Regions from separate parts of the Homo sapiens genome. Here region 2 is linked to region 1. The links come from fine-mapping of genetic effects on gene expression. Tissue or cell type: lung. Region 1 holds a variant in brackets; the other region holds the start of a gene. All regions are shown on one strand. Distances are from middle to middle.

Region 1 (8,105 bases):
GTTTTATGCCAAACGAAAATGGATTCTTAGTTCATTACTGGATTCCTAGTTCATTACTAATTCTCACTTAGCAGAATGTCAGAAACACTGGAGATGCTTTTAAAAATAGAGATTATCAAGCCCTATCCCAGAACTACTGAGTCAGTCTCCAGGGGTGGAGGCCAGGGATCTCTGAGCACACATTTCCTAAAATATTTTGCTTAATAATAAACCTGGGCTTGGTGTGGTGGCTCACACCTTTAAACCCAGCCCTTTGGGAGGCCAAGGCGGGAGGATCACTTGAGGCCAGGAGGCCAGAAGTTCAAGGTCAGCCAACACAGTGATACCTTGTCTGTACAAAAAAGAAGAAAAAAAAATTAGTCAGGCATGGTGGCATGCATCTGTAGTCCCAGCTCACTCAGGAGGTTGAGATAGGAGGCTCACTTGAGCCCAGACATTTGAGGTTGCAGTGAGCTATGATTGCCACCACTGCACTCCAGCCTAGGTGACAGCAAGACCCTGTGTCAAAAATAAAATAAAATAAAATTTAAAAATAAAACTCTATCTCTATAGGGATAATGGTGTAATGGTGAAGTAGAGAATCTCAGGTGACAAAAATCTCATCTGTCCATCAAGGTTGATCTCAAATGTAGTCTCTTAGGAACCCTTTCTCAGCCTGGGTCCCACCCGCCTTTAAGCTTCCATAGTCTTTGCTCATATCTTCCTTTTAGCACTTACCACAGTGCTTGTGGTTTATCCACCTGCCCTTCCTCACCCCAGTTGGAGCTCTTGTAGGTCAACAGTGGCCTTTTTTCCTTTTTTTTTTGAGACAGGAGTCTCGCTCTGCACCAGGCTGGAGTGCAGTGGCATGATCTCGGCTCGCTGCAACCTCCGCCTCCCAGGTTCAAGCAATTCTCCTGCCTCAGCCTCCTGGGTAGCTGGGATTACAGGTACCCACCACCACACCTGGCTAATTTTTATATTTTTTAGTAGAGACGGGGTTTCATCATGTTGGCCAGGGTGGTCTTGAACTCCTGACCTCAGTTGATCCGCCCCCCTTGGCCTCCTTAAGTGCTGGGATTATAGGCGTGAGCCACCGTGCCCGGCCCCTTTCTTCATCTTTCTAGCCCATTGGTCAGCTCACCTCTTGGGTTAAATAAACTTTACCTTTTGTCTCAGTAGAGAACACTGAAGGGGACACTGACCTAAAGTAAAGCCTTCTATGCAGACACATGTGGTTAGCAAGTTGTCCTACCCTGCTCTGTTCTCTTTCTTGCTGGGCCTTTTAGTCCTAGTCTTTCCCTTTGCCTGCTCCTCATCTGGAGAGGGGCAGAGGAATTCCAATCAGGGCATCCCAAGTTAAAAAACAATGTCCCAGAGAAGCAATGGTATGAATGACAGCTATTATATCATAATACTGTGCAAGGCTATGCATCCTGGTTTAAAGAAATTTGTGAGAACTGGGAATTTAACCAGCCTGTATAACACTGCTTCCTTGAAAAATTTATTTTCAAACATCTGGCTTACATGAGATCTTAAAAATTTTTTAAAAATAATATATTTTAATCAATATATTTAAAATATTATTTCAGTGTGTCACTAGCCACATTTCATGTATCCAATAGCCGCATGTGGCTGGTGACTACCCTGTTGAACAATGAACTCTTAACTTCTTCAAATTAGACTGTTAGAGTAGGTGGGCAGGCAAACATGAACACCACAGGAGAGGGCTCTCCCTAAGGAACCTTAGGCAACCATCTGGTGATGGTCAGGCGCTTTTTAAACTCTCCGTCTAAAATAATAACTGGTCACAGCTAGCACCAGGGAAAGGCGGTCTCCCAATAGATACAAAACACCTGAAGCTGGTTATCAGCAGCTTCCCAATAAGATCTTAGGAGCTGAGTGAGTGTGCTCACCCATGCACACTAAGATGCAAAATGGCGGAGTTTAACTGGTATATGACATCCCTCCAGGAAGCCTGGACTGGTAAGGGCAAAAATGCCTCAAATGAGCATGTGCACAACTTCAGTAAACACACTGCGCATGCGACCCCTCCCAAGTGCTGGCAGGCACTGCGCACGCGGACAGTCCACCCCAAGGAATAATCAAGGGAGGAGAGACTCAAAACTCCATTTGGATCTCTGAAGTCACCTGCTTGGTCCTCTTCCAAGTGTACTTTACTTTTTTTTACTGCTCTAAAGCTTTTCTTTTTTTTTCAAAAAAAATTTGAGACAGAACCTCACTCTGTCGTCCAGGCTGGAGTGAAATGGCATGATGTTGGCTCATTGCAGCCTCTGCCTTCCGGGTTTAAGCAATTCTCCTGCCTCAGCCTTCGGAGTAGCTGGGATTAAAGACACACACCACAACGCCCAGCTAATTTTTGTGTTTTTTAGTAGTGTTGGGGGGTCTCACCATGTTGGCCAGGCTAGTCTGGCTAGTCTGGCCTCAAATGATCCGCCTGCCTCGGCCTCCCAAAGTGCTGGGATTACAGGTGTGAGCCACCACGCCTGGCCCCTGCTCTAAAGCTTTTTAATAAACTTCCATTCCTGCTCTAAAACGTGCCTTGGTCTCTCACTCTGCCTTGACTCTTAGACTAATTATTTCCTCTGAGGAGGCAAGAATCGAGTTGCTGCAGACCTATACAGAATCACGGCTGCTCACAAGACTCTCCTAGGGATTGTTGATATAAATTGTCTTATTACAGAGATTGAATCTAAGTTATCACAACATTTAAAATCAGAAATACATTTGATAACAACCATTTTCATAAAGAATCTTTAAGTGAGTATTTTACTAGAAAATTCCATTCATGAAGATAAGAAATTATTTATCTAAATGCGTGCTGATCCCTGAGGCTAAAAATCAGGATCAAGCACAAGCTTTTGAAACACACCTTCTTTAGTTGAAAACCTCCTCTAAGGCCGGGCGCGGTGGCTCACAACTGTAATCCCAGCACTTTGGGAGGCAGAGGCAGGTAGATCACAAGGTCAGGAGTTCGTGACCAGCCTGGCTAATACGGTGAAACCCCGTTTCTACTAAAAATACAAAAAAAAAAAAAAAAAAAAAAAAAAATTAGCCGGGTGTGGTGGCGGGCGCCTGTAGTCTCAGCTACTTGGGAGGCTGAGGCAGGAGAATGGCGTGAACCTGGGAGGCGGAGCTTGCAGTGAGCCGTGATCACGCCACTGCACTCCAGCCTGGGCAACAGAATGAGACTCCATCTCAAAAAAAAGAAAGAAAAAAGAAAACCTCCTCTAAATGCTTTTTAAGAGCCTATTGGAACAATATTTATTGATTTTAAAATTTTTTTGTAGACATTAATGCCATTTAAAAAAAAAAAACAAAACCCAGCCGGGCACAGTGCCTCACATCTGTAATCCCAGCACTTTGGGAGGCCGAGGTGGGCGGATCACCTGTGGTCAGGAGTTCGAGACCAGCCTGACCAACATGGAGAAACCCTGCTCTACTAAAAATACAAAATTAGCCGGGCATGGTGGCGCATGCCTGTAATCCCAGCTACCTGGGAGGCTGAGGCAGGAGAATCGCTTGAACCTGGGAGGCGGAGGTTGCAGTGAGCCGAGATTGTACCATTGCACTCCAGCCTGGGCAAGAAGAGCAAAATTCCGTCTCAAAAAAGAAAAAGAAACAACAAGCAAACAAACAAACAAACAGCACTGCTGGTGGCTGGCACCTGTAATCCCAGCACTTTGGGAGGCTGAGATGGGAGGACTGTTTGAGCCCAACAGTTGGAGACCAGCCTGGGCAACATAGTTGCAACATAGCCGTCCCCTACCCCCCATTAAATTAGAAAAAAAAAGTATTTAAAAAAAGCCCAAACTCTACTGATGAATAGTATAACAGAGTTGCTACATTTTCCATAGTGTTGTGTAGATGAAGTATACTGTGCAACTGGACTGGGGCAACACTGTAAGAAGAGAGGATTTTGCTGGTGTCACTTTCACTATTTGTGTTTTGAAACAAAGTTGTCTTCAGCCTCTTAAGGAATTGGTATATATTTATGGGTGGACTTTCCAGCAGGTGGCACTTTAACAATTGTAACAACCTAAAGACCGTTTGCATAAACAATAGTGTTGACATTTTATAGTGCTTCCATAACGTCCTGTAAATCAAAGTGTTTTGTTTTAAAAAGGGTATTATAAAGATTGTCCTCATCAGGGGCTACCTTTGGTTAACAGATGAATAATTGTTGGAAGCTAAACAATGGGTACACGTGGACATACAGAGTGTAATAATAGATACTGGAGACTCCAAAAAGTGGCAGGGTGGGAGGGAGGTGAGGGTTGAAAAATTACCTGTTGTGTACAGTGTTCATTATTTGGGTGATGGGTACACTAAAAGCCCAGATTTCACCACTACCCAATATACACGTGTAAGAAACCTGCACTTATACACACATATATATGTCATAAATATATATAATATATATAAAATATATATTATATATATTATTTTTTCTTGTTTTTTCCCTTTTTTTTTTAAGCCTCTGTGGCACTGGTATGTCAGGCCAGGTTTCCATTATCAACCAGAACAGTCAGGTTCACTAACCCTTTTCTGATGAATGTGTAAGTTAAACATAAAAAAACTGAAGAAATTGGTGCCTGAGGGTGAGCGCTGGAATGCAAAAACAAACCCATTAAGACCTGGCCTGGGTTTTCTCCGGCCCTAAAGTCTGATCAAATAATAAAGGCATTCTTACACATACACCTCGTGCCAGAGCTCATTCAAGATGAAGAAACTTTCCAAGACTCTAGAGAAAGCTTTCCAGACCCTAGACCCTAGATAAAGATTAGATATAGAT[T/G]GAATGAAACACTGCCACTTTTAGGTGCACTACCACACATGGGCAAATAACTTAGAATATGTATAAGCACTGAAAAAAAAAAACCTTGTAAATTTGAGTTGGTCGGGTGAGTTACTCTGACCTGCCTGAAACCGGTTGCAGAAATAAACTCCCTTCTTTCTCAGTCTGTCTGCATCTCATTATTGAACTATGAGAACAAGCAGCTGGACCCCTCGTTCTGTCTGGGTACACTGGCAGAGGAACAGACACATAGATCAATTGGACCTAGGAAAAAACTCACACAAATATGCTGAAATTAATTTTTGACAAAAGTGCAAAAGCAGTTCAATGGAGGAAAGATAGTCTTTTCAACAAGTGGTTCTGGAGCAACTGGACATCTACTGGGAAAAAAAATAAACATTGACTATGTCGGTTAGAAAAAAACGGTTGAAGAACTGGGGTCCCGGCCAGGCGCGGTGGCTCACACCTGTAATCCCAGCATTTTCGGAGACTGAGGCAGGTGGATCACCTGAAGTCAGGAGTTCGAGACCAGCCTGGCCAACATGGTGAAACCAGGTCTCTACTAAAAATACAAAAATTAGCTGGGCGTGGTGGCTCGTGCCTGTAATCCCAGCTGCTTGGGAGGCTGAGGCAGGAGAATTGCTTGAACCCAGGAGACAGAGGTTGCAGTGAGCCAACACAGTGCCACTGCACTCCAGCCTCGGCGACAGAGTGAGACTCTGTCTCAAAAAAAACCAAAAACCAAAAACAAACAAAGAATTGGGGTCTCAGAAAAGTTGAAATATCTGTCTCAGGTCACACAGAGTTTGGTGGCTAAGGTAAAAACAGAAACCAGGATTTTAACCTTTCAGTTTAGTCAGCAGCCAAAGTCTCCGCTCTGTAAATTCTGAAGGGGTCATGGTTGCTGTGGCACTGCTGAGACAGCAAATACAAATGCATCTCTAATGAGAGCTGTTGGGATGATTTTCTTGGAAAAACTAGCTTGGTAATACAGTTTTATCTGCAACGCTGGGGGCTGCCCTTTTAAGAAGCTGTCTACAGTTTGTCTCTGTGAGGTCTTACGTATGCCTAGTCACGATTCTCTTTTCTGTCATAATTATGGTGATGTGCCATTTCATCTACATTTAATCACTTAGTATCTGGACATATCCTCAGCCTTCAAAATACATCAATAAATCAGGGAAATTTAGCAGATAGCCACTTAGCTGATTAAAAGGCAAGAGATTTATGAGGAAATTAGATAATGCTGACCATGCAGTTCTCTAGTAGTCCTTTAAAGGGTGTTTTGAGAAGTCTGGCAATATATAAATGGTGCATTAGAGGAAGCAAAGCCTCTTCAGAACGACAAAATTTTACCCATCCTTCATGCACAAACCTGTAGGATTTAATGTTCCAAGCTTTCTTCTCCCAATGCTCAAACTTTTACAATGTACCTTAATCCTCGGTTTAAATACTTTCCTCTTCTAGCAATCTTTTCTTTTCTTTTCTTTTCTTTTGAGACGGAGTTTTGCTCTTGTTGCCCAGGCTGGAGTGCAATGGTGCAGTCTCGTCTCATCGCAACCTCCGCCTCCCGGGTTCAAGCAATTCTCCTGCCTCAGCCTCCTGAGTAGCTGGGATTACAGGCATGCATCACCATGCCCAGCTAATTTTGTGTTTTTAGTAGAGATGAGGTTTCTCCATGTTGGTCAGGCTGGATCTCGAACTCCCAACCTCAGGTGATCTGCCTCCTTGACCTCCCAAAGTGCTGGGATTACCGGTGTGAGCCACTGCACCCGGCCTCTTCCAGCAATCTTAATTTAAAATGTGAACACTTTTGGAGAAGGAAATGAAAGAATTCGTACCAATTTTAAGAGGCCATTTGAACAATTATTAGCTCCAACTGACCATAAACAAGCATTCAGATGGTTCCATATATGCCTCACTCAATCAGCTATTACATTCACTGCCTGCCCATTGGGGAGGCCACAGTCTGTACACAATGTGTGATGTAGAGAACTTGTAGTGCTAGTAGCTGGGGTTTCCATGCTGTCTTTTTCCATTTATGCTGCTATAACAGAACACCCAGAAAGTTCATTCCTTCTTACACCATGAGAGGACACAGTGTATCTACAAGCCAGGAAGAGTGACTTCACCAGACATGGATTCTGTTGGCAGCTTGATCTTGGACTTCCCAGCCTCCAGGACTGTGAGAAATAAATTTCTGTTGTTCATGAGCCAGCTAATCTATAGTATTTTTGTTATGGCAGTGTGAATGGACCAAGACATGCCTTATTCTGCTTTGCAGTGTATCAAAATCTCAATGGAATGGGAAAGGTCAGAAACAAACACTTTTTACATATTCAACATAGAACCAAACATAAAGCCTTAAAAATAACAGGAACTCAGTAATATTGCATTTGTATTTGTTGATTAACTATGCTTTTTCCTATGTTCTATCAGATCCTAAACTTGTGAATCACTACTTTTTGTTTGGGTAAGTAGTAATAATCCTACCATGTAACAAAGCAAAAAGTGATTTAATATTCAAGACATTGCCCAAATATGATATCTCTAAATTGCATATTAATCTTTTCCAGGAAGTCTTTCTTGGCATAACGTAAATGGGACAGAACAAAGAATTTTAGAAGATGCTTGATGAGGAAGTGCTACTCCTATTTAGAAAAAGGAAAGCTTAATTCAATAGGTTATATTTTCTATGGTTGGAACACATGCTATTGACAAATGACAAAGTAAATAGAAGGGGAGTGAGAGGAACATATGATTATTCCGGTGTTAACATGAATGTTTGTGAAAATGACTATATTTGGGAGCCAGAATCTGCATATCTGAGTAGATGATTCACACTCTTACAGACTCTGCAGACGACTGCTTAGGATTGAAGAAACAGGTTCTATCATTAAAAAGCTGGATGATCTAGGGTGATGCTTTTTCACTTCCCTTTCATAACTCTCATTGATCTAACAATAGTATGTGCCTGGCAATGGACTGTTTTTTAAAAACATACATTGTCTTATATAAACTTCACATCTTAAGGAGGCATATACTATTTATATCTCCATTTAACCAATGAGGAAATGAAGGCTTGTACCAGGCAGGATAGAATTAGGTTATGCTACTATAACAAACAACACCAAATATCTTATTGGCTTAAAACAAGATTTAATTTTTGGCTGGCTGGGCATGGTGGCTCATACCTGTAATCCCAGCACTTTGGGAGGCCAAGGTGGGAGGACTGCTTGTGCCCAGGAGTACAAGACCAGCCTGGGCAACATAGTGAGATACAAAAAATAAAAAATTAGCTGGGCATGGT
Region 2 (8,105 bases), 77 kb before region 1:
GCGTGCACCACCATGCCTGGATAATTTTTGTATTTTTAGTAGAGATGGGGGTTTCGCCATGGTGGCAAAACTGGTCTCGAACTCCTGACCTCGTGATCCACCCGCTTCAGCCTTCCAAAGTGCTGGGATTACAGGTGTGAGCCTCCATGCCTGGCCTCTGTTTCCCTCCTATGACACTGTGATTACATTATGGCCCACAGGATAATCTCTCCATCTCACGGTGTGTAACTTAATCACATCTGCAAAGTCCATTTTGCCACTCAAGGCAACATTCACAGGTTCTAGGGATTAGGACCTGGATATTTTGGGGGACATTATTCAGCTTGCTACAATGTCTAAATTCATCTTTTAATTTCATGTATTTATACAAAGGCATACATTTGACATAACAGGGACTCTATTGGCGGGCGTGGTGGCTCACACCTGTAATCCTGGCACTTTGGGAGGCCGAGGCAGGTGAATCACGAGGTCAGGAGATCGAGACCAACCTGGCCAACATGGTGAACTCCTGTCTCTACTAAAAATACAAGAATTAGCCGGGCATGGGCACATGCCTGTAGTCCCATCTACTTGGGGGGCTGAGGCAGGAGAATTGCTTGAACCAGGGAGTTGGAGGTTGCAGTGAGCTGAGATCGCACCACTGTATTCCAGCCTGACAAAGAGAGACTCCGTCTGAAAAAAAAAATAAAAGCGGGGGGACTCTATTATACGTGCCGGAGTTTTTTTTTGGGGGGTGTGTGTGTGTGTCTGTGTGTGTGTTTTAAAAGACTGTCTCACTATGTAGCCCCAGGCTGGTCTGAAACTCCTGAGCTCAAACAATCCTCCTGCCTCAGCCTCCTGAAGTGTTGGGATTACAGGTGTGAGCTACTGTGCCTGGCCCCCCACCCTCTTTTAAAGTTACTGGTGTTGACGTGTATCTTCTATTTTTCTTCATACTCACATAATCAAACATAGTAGTCCTCCCTTATGTTTCAAGACCCCCGGTGGGTGTCTGAAACTGCAGAGAGTATTTAGCCCTATACAGTATATACTTTTTTCCTACACATACCTATAATAAAATTTAATTTATAAAATTGGCACAGTAAGAAATTAACAACTCATAATAAAATAGAACAATTATAACAATATACTGTAATAAAAGTTATGTGAATGTGGTCTCTCTCTCAAAATATCTTACTATACTCTAGTCACCTATTTTCAGAGGGTAATTGGCTGTGGTAACTAAAACCGTGGAAATCAAAACCTCAGGTAAGGAGGTGACTACTGTATATATTGCAAATAAAAAATCAAATTTGGTTAAGGAGAGACTTTATTTGTAGGGATTATTGCAAATGGGGATGGGTGGGGACTGTGGGGAAGGGTTCCTGCAGTAGGAGGGGGCCTATTCCCTACTGGTGGGAAGTGGAATGAAAAGGTGGCTCTCCACTGGATAATAGATTAGAGAATGTTTCACCCTGAGGCCAACTTCTCAGGAGGGGCTATTAAGGAGGGGTTACCTGCGGCTCAGGGTCAGGGTGGGTGAAAGTTCAGAGGTATGAGGGAGGAAGAGAAATTCAACCAAAATCTTTGATTAAAAAAAAAAAGGTGGGAGGCTTCTTTTCTTTTCTCTTTCTTTCTTTCTCTCTTTCTCTCTTTCTTTCTTTTTTTTTTGAGACAGTCTTACTCTGTTGCCCAGGCTGAAGTGCAGTGGCACGATTTTGGCTCACTGCAACCTCTGCCTCCCGGGTTCAAGTGGTTCTCCTGCCTTAGCCTCCCAAGTAGCTGGGATTACAGGCACACACCAAAACGCCGGGCTAATTTTTGTAGTTTTAGTAGAGACGGGATTTCGCCATGTTGGTCAGGCTGGTCTCGAACTCCTGACCTCAGGAGTAATCCGCCCGCTTCGGTCTCCCAAAGCACTGGGATTACAGGCGTCAGCCACCGCGCCCGGCCTAGGAAGGTTTCTTAATTGTCATTACTTTCCAGGAGCACAGGGCTCAGGTAGAATTCAACGTTGTCAATATGCAGGGTTAAATGAGTTGTTTACTTTACAAAAGTGACATCTTAAATGTGCTTCTAATGTCCTCTTGTTTCATAATATGCTTGTATTATAATACTTAATTAGTCTCTACGGATGACCACGTTCTTAGTTTCAAAGGTTTTTTTGAGGTTCCTGCAGCTGCTAAACTTGGGGTTCCTGAAGTAATATTTCATTTTCGAAAGCTGTTTTTTTTCTTAGACTCCTCTTACAGAATTGCCAGCTCGTCTGCACAGCCTGTCTATTTGAACCTACGTTTATTTTGACCCACCCCAACCCCCAAAGCAGGTGGCCAGGAAAAAATAAAAGGTCCCAACACCTTTTCTTTTGTTTTCTGGATCTCCTCCTTTCCGGAAGCAGGGGGTCAGTGACAGGAACTTTTCGACCCCAGCTTAGTGTCTCTTAATCCCTCTTTAGCCCGTGGAAGCCTCGGAAGGCGTGGCCAGGGCAGGGCATCCAAGCCGAGCGCCGGGGGTTGGCACCGTCTCTCTCCCTGGCACGGCGGAGACAACTGAATACTGAAAGACAAAACCAACACACCGCGAGGAATGAGCCACGCCTCCATCCACGCCACAAAGGCACGTTTCCAAGATCTTTTTAGGATCTTACCCATGTTTTGCAGGGAAAAGCGACACAGACCTGAAGCGCCTTCAGGTTTTTTTTTTTTTTTTTTTTTTTTTTAAGACGACGTCTCCCTCTGTTGCCCAGGCTGGAGTGCAAAGGCGCGATCTTGGCTCACAACCGCCGCCTCCTGGGTTCAAGCGATTCTCCTGCCTCAGCCTCTCGAGTAGCTGGGACTACAGGCACCCGTCACCACGCCCGGCTAATTTTTGTATTTTTAGTAGAGACGGGGTTTCACCATATTTCCCAGTCTGGTCTCGAACTCCTGACCTCAGGTGATCCACCCGTCTCGGCCTCCCAAAGCGTTGGGATTACAGGTGTGAGCCAACGCGCCCTGCCAGCCTTCAGTTATTTTAATGAAGCGATTTTGTACAAATCAGCCAGAGGGAGGGAGAGTGGGAGGGAAGAGGAGGGGTCAGCCAGTCCTTCCAGTTAGGAGAGTCCCGGCTCACTCACTGCTTCTAACTCACTGCTCACTCACCGCTTCTTAGCTTAGGAATCACCTACAATAACCTCGTGTCACTGTATCTTGTGATTTCAAACAAGGAACCCTAAAAACCTGAAGGCACACTGGGTGCCGCTCAACAATAAGGCTCGGCTGCCAAGACGAAAAAAAAATTGCCCTTTCTCCTCCTGCCACCCTGGAGGTGCCAGGTTGTAATCTGCAAATGTATTGTCTGGCCCTTAGGGCTTGACAGTTAATGATTGGTCGCTGAAGGAGCCGAGCGGAGGAGCGAGAGGGACGCGAGCAAGCGAGCGAGGGAGGGAGCGCAGGGCCAGAGCGGAGCCCCAGCCGGCCGCACAGGCACCGCCTCCCGTCTTCCGGGACCCGGCACTTCGGGGGTTTTGGGCGCCGGAGACGCGCAAGGGCGCCGATGGAGGCAGACTCGCCAGCGGGCCCCGGCGCCCCAGAGCCCCTCGCGGAGGGAGCGGCGGCCGAGTTCTCCAGCCTGCTGCGCAGGATAAAAGGCAAACTCTTCACCTGGTGAGTGGAAGGGGCGTGCTGCAGCTCCGCTGGGGCGTGGGGGCGGCTGCGGGCCCTGCGCGCACGTGGACAAGGAGCACACTCTCTGAGGCCCCCAGCAGGGAGGCAGAGGTGGCGGCCGCACGGACTTCGGTTCGGGGCTCAACACGCACACCAGGTATGGTGCGCTTCACCTGGCGTCGGGAAGCACTTGGTGCGTCTCCCTCGGCTCCCGTTTCGAAATCGTGGCGATGTATTTTGGAGGATTTGGGGGGAAACCCACCCTGTGGCACTATTAGGTCGGTCCTCTGGGGCGTTCCGCGGTGGAGGGACGAGGTCCCCGGGGATGCTGTGAAGGAGGAGTGCCCACCTCGGGCTGGGCAGGTGGGTGAGCGCCACTTCCTGGCGCCGGCGCCCTCATTCCATCTGCTGCCGAGCCAGCCAGACTGGGCGCGGTGATTCAAGAGTTGACCGAAGTGAGAAATCCTGGTTAAGTTTTGTGCTGCTGCCGGGTGGGAGACCAGAGCCGGCTCTCTCTTCCTGGGCCTGAGCGAGGTGATATAGCCACCCCCAGGGCTGGGGTCCAGGGAAGCCTGTTTGTGGTATCACTATGCTCTGTGCGAAGTAGGGACAAATGTTTTTAAGGAGTGGGCAGCGACTCTAGAAAGCGTTTCTGTGGTTGCTGGAGGACTTGCACTCTGGAAATGAGAGAACCCAGGACCTAAATAGTGAAAGACATTTATTGGGCACTCGCTCTGTGTCAGGTACTGTGCATAACAATTTATATGGATAATATCAGCTAATCCTCACCACTTTAGGAGATGGTACTATTGTTATATCCACTTTGCCGCTGGAGAAACAAAGAAGGCTAAGCAATTTGCCCAAGGCCACAAGATGATCTTTAAGGGGTGATGCGTTCAAGCCGTAGTCTAAACAGCGTTGGCCACTGACAACTCATGAAACAGATATTTGATTTTTTTTTCATATTAACAAAGCGAATTTCCCTTTAACGATTGTGAAAGATAGTCCTGAAAAGCCATACCATTTTAAAAACGAGATCGATAAAGGTGTAAGCATTTTTTATCATATAAATAGTTTGAAATTGATGCATGTGTTTAAAGGGGAAAGTTGGCCGAAAACCACCTTGTAGCATCCAGTTGTGTATGTCCTGATACATTTGTTAAAAGTTCTCAGCTGGGAGGCAATTCAGTGTAATGGCTAAGGGCACTCACATTCTGGACTCAAATCCTGGCTGGGTGACCTTGGACAAGTCAGTTCTCTGTGCTCCAGTTCCCTCCCTTCCCTCCCTCTCTCCCTCTCTCCTTCCTTCCTTCCCTCTCTCTCCTTCCTTCCTTCCTTCCCTCTCTCCTTCCTTCGTTCCCTCTCTCCTTCCTTCCGTCCTTCCTTCCACAAGTCAGTTATCTGTACTCCAGTTCCCTCCCTCCCTCCCTCCCTCCTTCTTTGTTCCTTCCTTCCGTCCGTGTCCGTCCGTCTTGGACAAGTCACTTAACTTCTCTGTGCTCCAGTCTCCCTCCCTCCCTTCCTTCCTCCCTTCCTTCCTCCCTTCCTTCTGCTGGGTGACCTTGGACAAATCAGTTCTCTGTGCTCCAGTTCCCTCCCTCCGCCCCTCCCTTCCTTCCTGCCTTCCTTCCTTCCTGGACAAGTCACTTCTCTGTGCTTCAGTCTCCCTCCCTCCCTTCCTTCTTGGACAAGTCACTTAACTTCTCTGTGCTCCAGTCTCCTTCCCTCTTTTCCCTCCCTCCCTCCCTCCCTTCCTTCCTTCCCTCCCTCCCTTCCTTCCTTCCTGCCTTCCTTCCTTCCTTCCTGGACAAGTCACTTCTCTGTGCTCCGGTCTCCCTCTCTCCCTCCCTCCCTCCCTTCTTGGACAAGTCACTTAACTTCTCTGTGCTCCAGTCTCCCTCCCTCTTTTCTCTCCCTCCCTCCCTCCCTCCTGACGGAGTCTCATTCTGTCACCTTCCTTCCTGACAGAGTCTCATTCTGTCACCCAGGCCTGAGTGCAGAGGCTCTATCTCAGCTAACTGCAACCTCAACCTTTCGGGTTCAAGCGATTATCCTGCCTCAGCCTCCGAAGTAGCTGGGATTACAGATGTATACCACCACGCCAGGCTAATTTTTTCATGCTTTTAGTAGAGATGGGGTTTCCCCATGTTGACCAGGCTGGTCTTGAACTCCTGACCTCAAGTGATGCACCCACCTCCGCCTCCCAAAGTAGTGGGATTACAGGCGTGAGCCACCGCGCCCAGCCTGTGCTCCAGTTTTCTTATTTGTAAAATGGAGATAATAACAGTACCTACCTTGTAGTGCTGTTACAAGGTTACTATGCAGGAAAGGGCAGACAGAGCCTGGCTCCTTTCAGTGCTCTATATGGGTTAGTTGTCACCATTAGCTCTCTATTCTTGGGTGATGGGAACATTTGGTGATTGCTTCAGGAGATGCCAGTGGCCTTGAGGCTGGGGCAGATGATATGGCAAGATGTATGTTTAACAAGATGTGATAAGAATTAACAATGATTTTCTTTTCTTTTCTTCTTCTTCTTTTTTTTTTTTTTTTTTGAGACAGAGTTTTGCTCTTGTTGCCCAGGCTGGAGTGCAGCGGCACGATCATGGCTCACTGCAACCTCTGCCTCCCGGGTTCAAGTGATTCTCCTGCCTCAGCCTCCTGAGTAGCTAGGATTACAGGCGCCTGCCACCATGCCCGGCTAATTTTTAATACAGACAGGATTTCACCATGTTGGCCAGGCTGGTCTTGAGCTCCTGACCTCAGGTGATCCATCTACCTCAGCCTCCAAAAGTGCTGGGATTATAAGCGTAAGCCACCGTGCCTGGCCTGATTTTTTTTTTTCTCTCCTAATGTTCTGATACTTTTGGAATCCGGGTATGTTTTATAATCAGTCTAGTAGCCTCCTAAATATGAGATTTCTTTTGTCTATGAATGTCCTTTTTATGTATCTCTTTGAGGGCTTTTTCCTTTCTTGTGGAATAGCAGTTATGGGCATTTTTTTTTTTTAGACAGAGTTTCACTGTTGTTGCCCAGGCTGGAGTTCAATGGCGCGATCTCGGCTCACCGCAACCTCCGCCTCCCGGGTTCAAGCTCTTCTTCTACCTCAGCCTGCCAAGTAGCTGGGATTACAGGCATGCACCACCACACCTGGCTAATTTTGTATTTTTTGTAGAGATGGGGCTTCTCCATGTTGGTCAGGCTGTTCTCGAACTCCCAACCTCAGGTGATCCGCCCGCCTCGGCCTCCCAAAGTGCTGGGATTACAGGTGTGAGCCACACGCCTGGCCATGGACGAAGTTCTTTAACAGCAAAAATGGTGTCTTTTTCTTTTTTATATCTACCACAACCCTTAGCACATGAATGAATGAATGAGTGAATGACTGAGGGATGACAAAGGTTCACAAGTCTTCCTTTCCATTCTGCCTCCCTCCCTGAACTCTTCCCTTTATTGGTCTTTATTCCAAGGGTCTTGGGCTGAGCTTCTTGTTTGGTTGGCTGGGCTCTTTTGTTAATTAAAGTTTCCATTCCTACCTCTGGCAGCCATCCAAGCACTTGGATTTTGGATTGCAGTTTCTCTTTATCAGACCCAGCAATCAGAAAAGAGTGGTTTACCAGATATCCAGTACTCCTAATACTCAATATTTTAAGCTTTGTTGTCAAAACTCATGTCCCAAGTTTGAGTAGCTTTGTGAATCCCCACCTGTGGCCAGGGAACCAAGGGTGGGAGAGTGTAGAAAGAGGTTGGTGAATGGATATGATGTGTTATCACCATATGGGCAAGATACAGAGAGAGATTTATAACCACATAGCTCATTTCTATTCCTTTTACCAAAAAGGGGCAAGAAGAGGCTTTTTGGGCAACTGGGTACTAAATACAGGGAGAAGATTGGGGCATAGAGCTTGTTATGTTTTCATTATGAGGAGGATATGTTCTAAGTGACCCCAGCTCTTAATATACCTGCCCCCATAGGGTACAGACAACTTTTCTCTATGATTAGGAATATCAGATCACTCATTCAATAAAAGTTTATTGAACACTTACCATGTGCCAGACATTCATGATAATGAGAACCATATATTCCTTAGTGGAGTGTGTAATTTTGGCTTTTGTGATTTATTACTGTCAACTCAAGTGAAAAATATTGTGATAGAAGACCATAGACTTCCAGGAGTATCTGAGAATACTTCTTATTTAATTGTTTATTATTATTATTATCATCATTTTTTGAGACAGGCTCTCACTCTGTTGGCCAGGCTGGAGTGCAGTGGCTGATCATGGCTTACTGCAGCCTCGACCTCCGTGGCTCAAGTGATCCTCCCACCTCAGCCTCCTGAGTGGCTGGGACTATGGCATGCACTGCCACGCACTACTAGTTTTTTTTTTTTTTCCGTAGAGACAGGGTTTCACCATGTTGCCCAGGCTGGTCTCAAACTCTTTGGCTCAAGTGATCCACCTGCCTTGGCTTTCCAAAATGTTGGGATT

Evidence for each region. PIP is the estimated chance that this variant, and not a neighbour inherited with it, causes the effect.
Region 2: it holds the start of SLC35F2, and the variant in region 1 is fine-mapped to the expression of SLC35F2 in lung (TOPMed, PIP above 0.99).

Annotation. Positions count from the first base shown.
Region 1 is chr11:107,776,881-107,784,985 of GRCh38, reverse strand. No RefSeq gene overlaps it. Among named protein-coding and RNA genes, the nearest start is that of SLN, 69 kb to the right of the region's middle. The variant T/G (reference allele first, on the strand shown) is at 4,796.
Region 2 is chr11:107,854,176-107,862,280 of GRCh38, reverse strand. SLC35F2 (solute carrier family 35 member F2) reads left to right here and starts at 3,494. Exons shown (of 8, transcript NM_017515.5): 1 at 3,494-3,623. The coding sequence starts at 3,514. It overlaps LOC124902746 (a long non-coding RNA gene), which reads right to left and starts at 3,051. Exons shown (of 2, transcript XR_007062876.1): 1 at 2,627-3,051; 2 at 1,292-2,535. RefSeq lists a silencer at 3,369-3,678 and an enhancer at 3,899-3,968.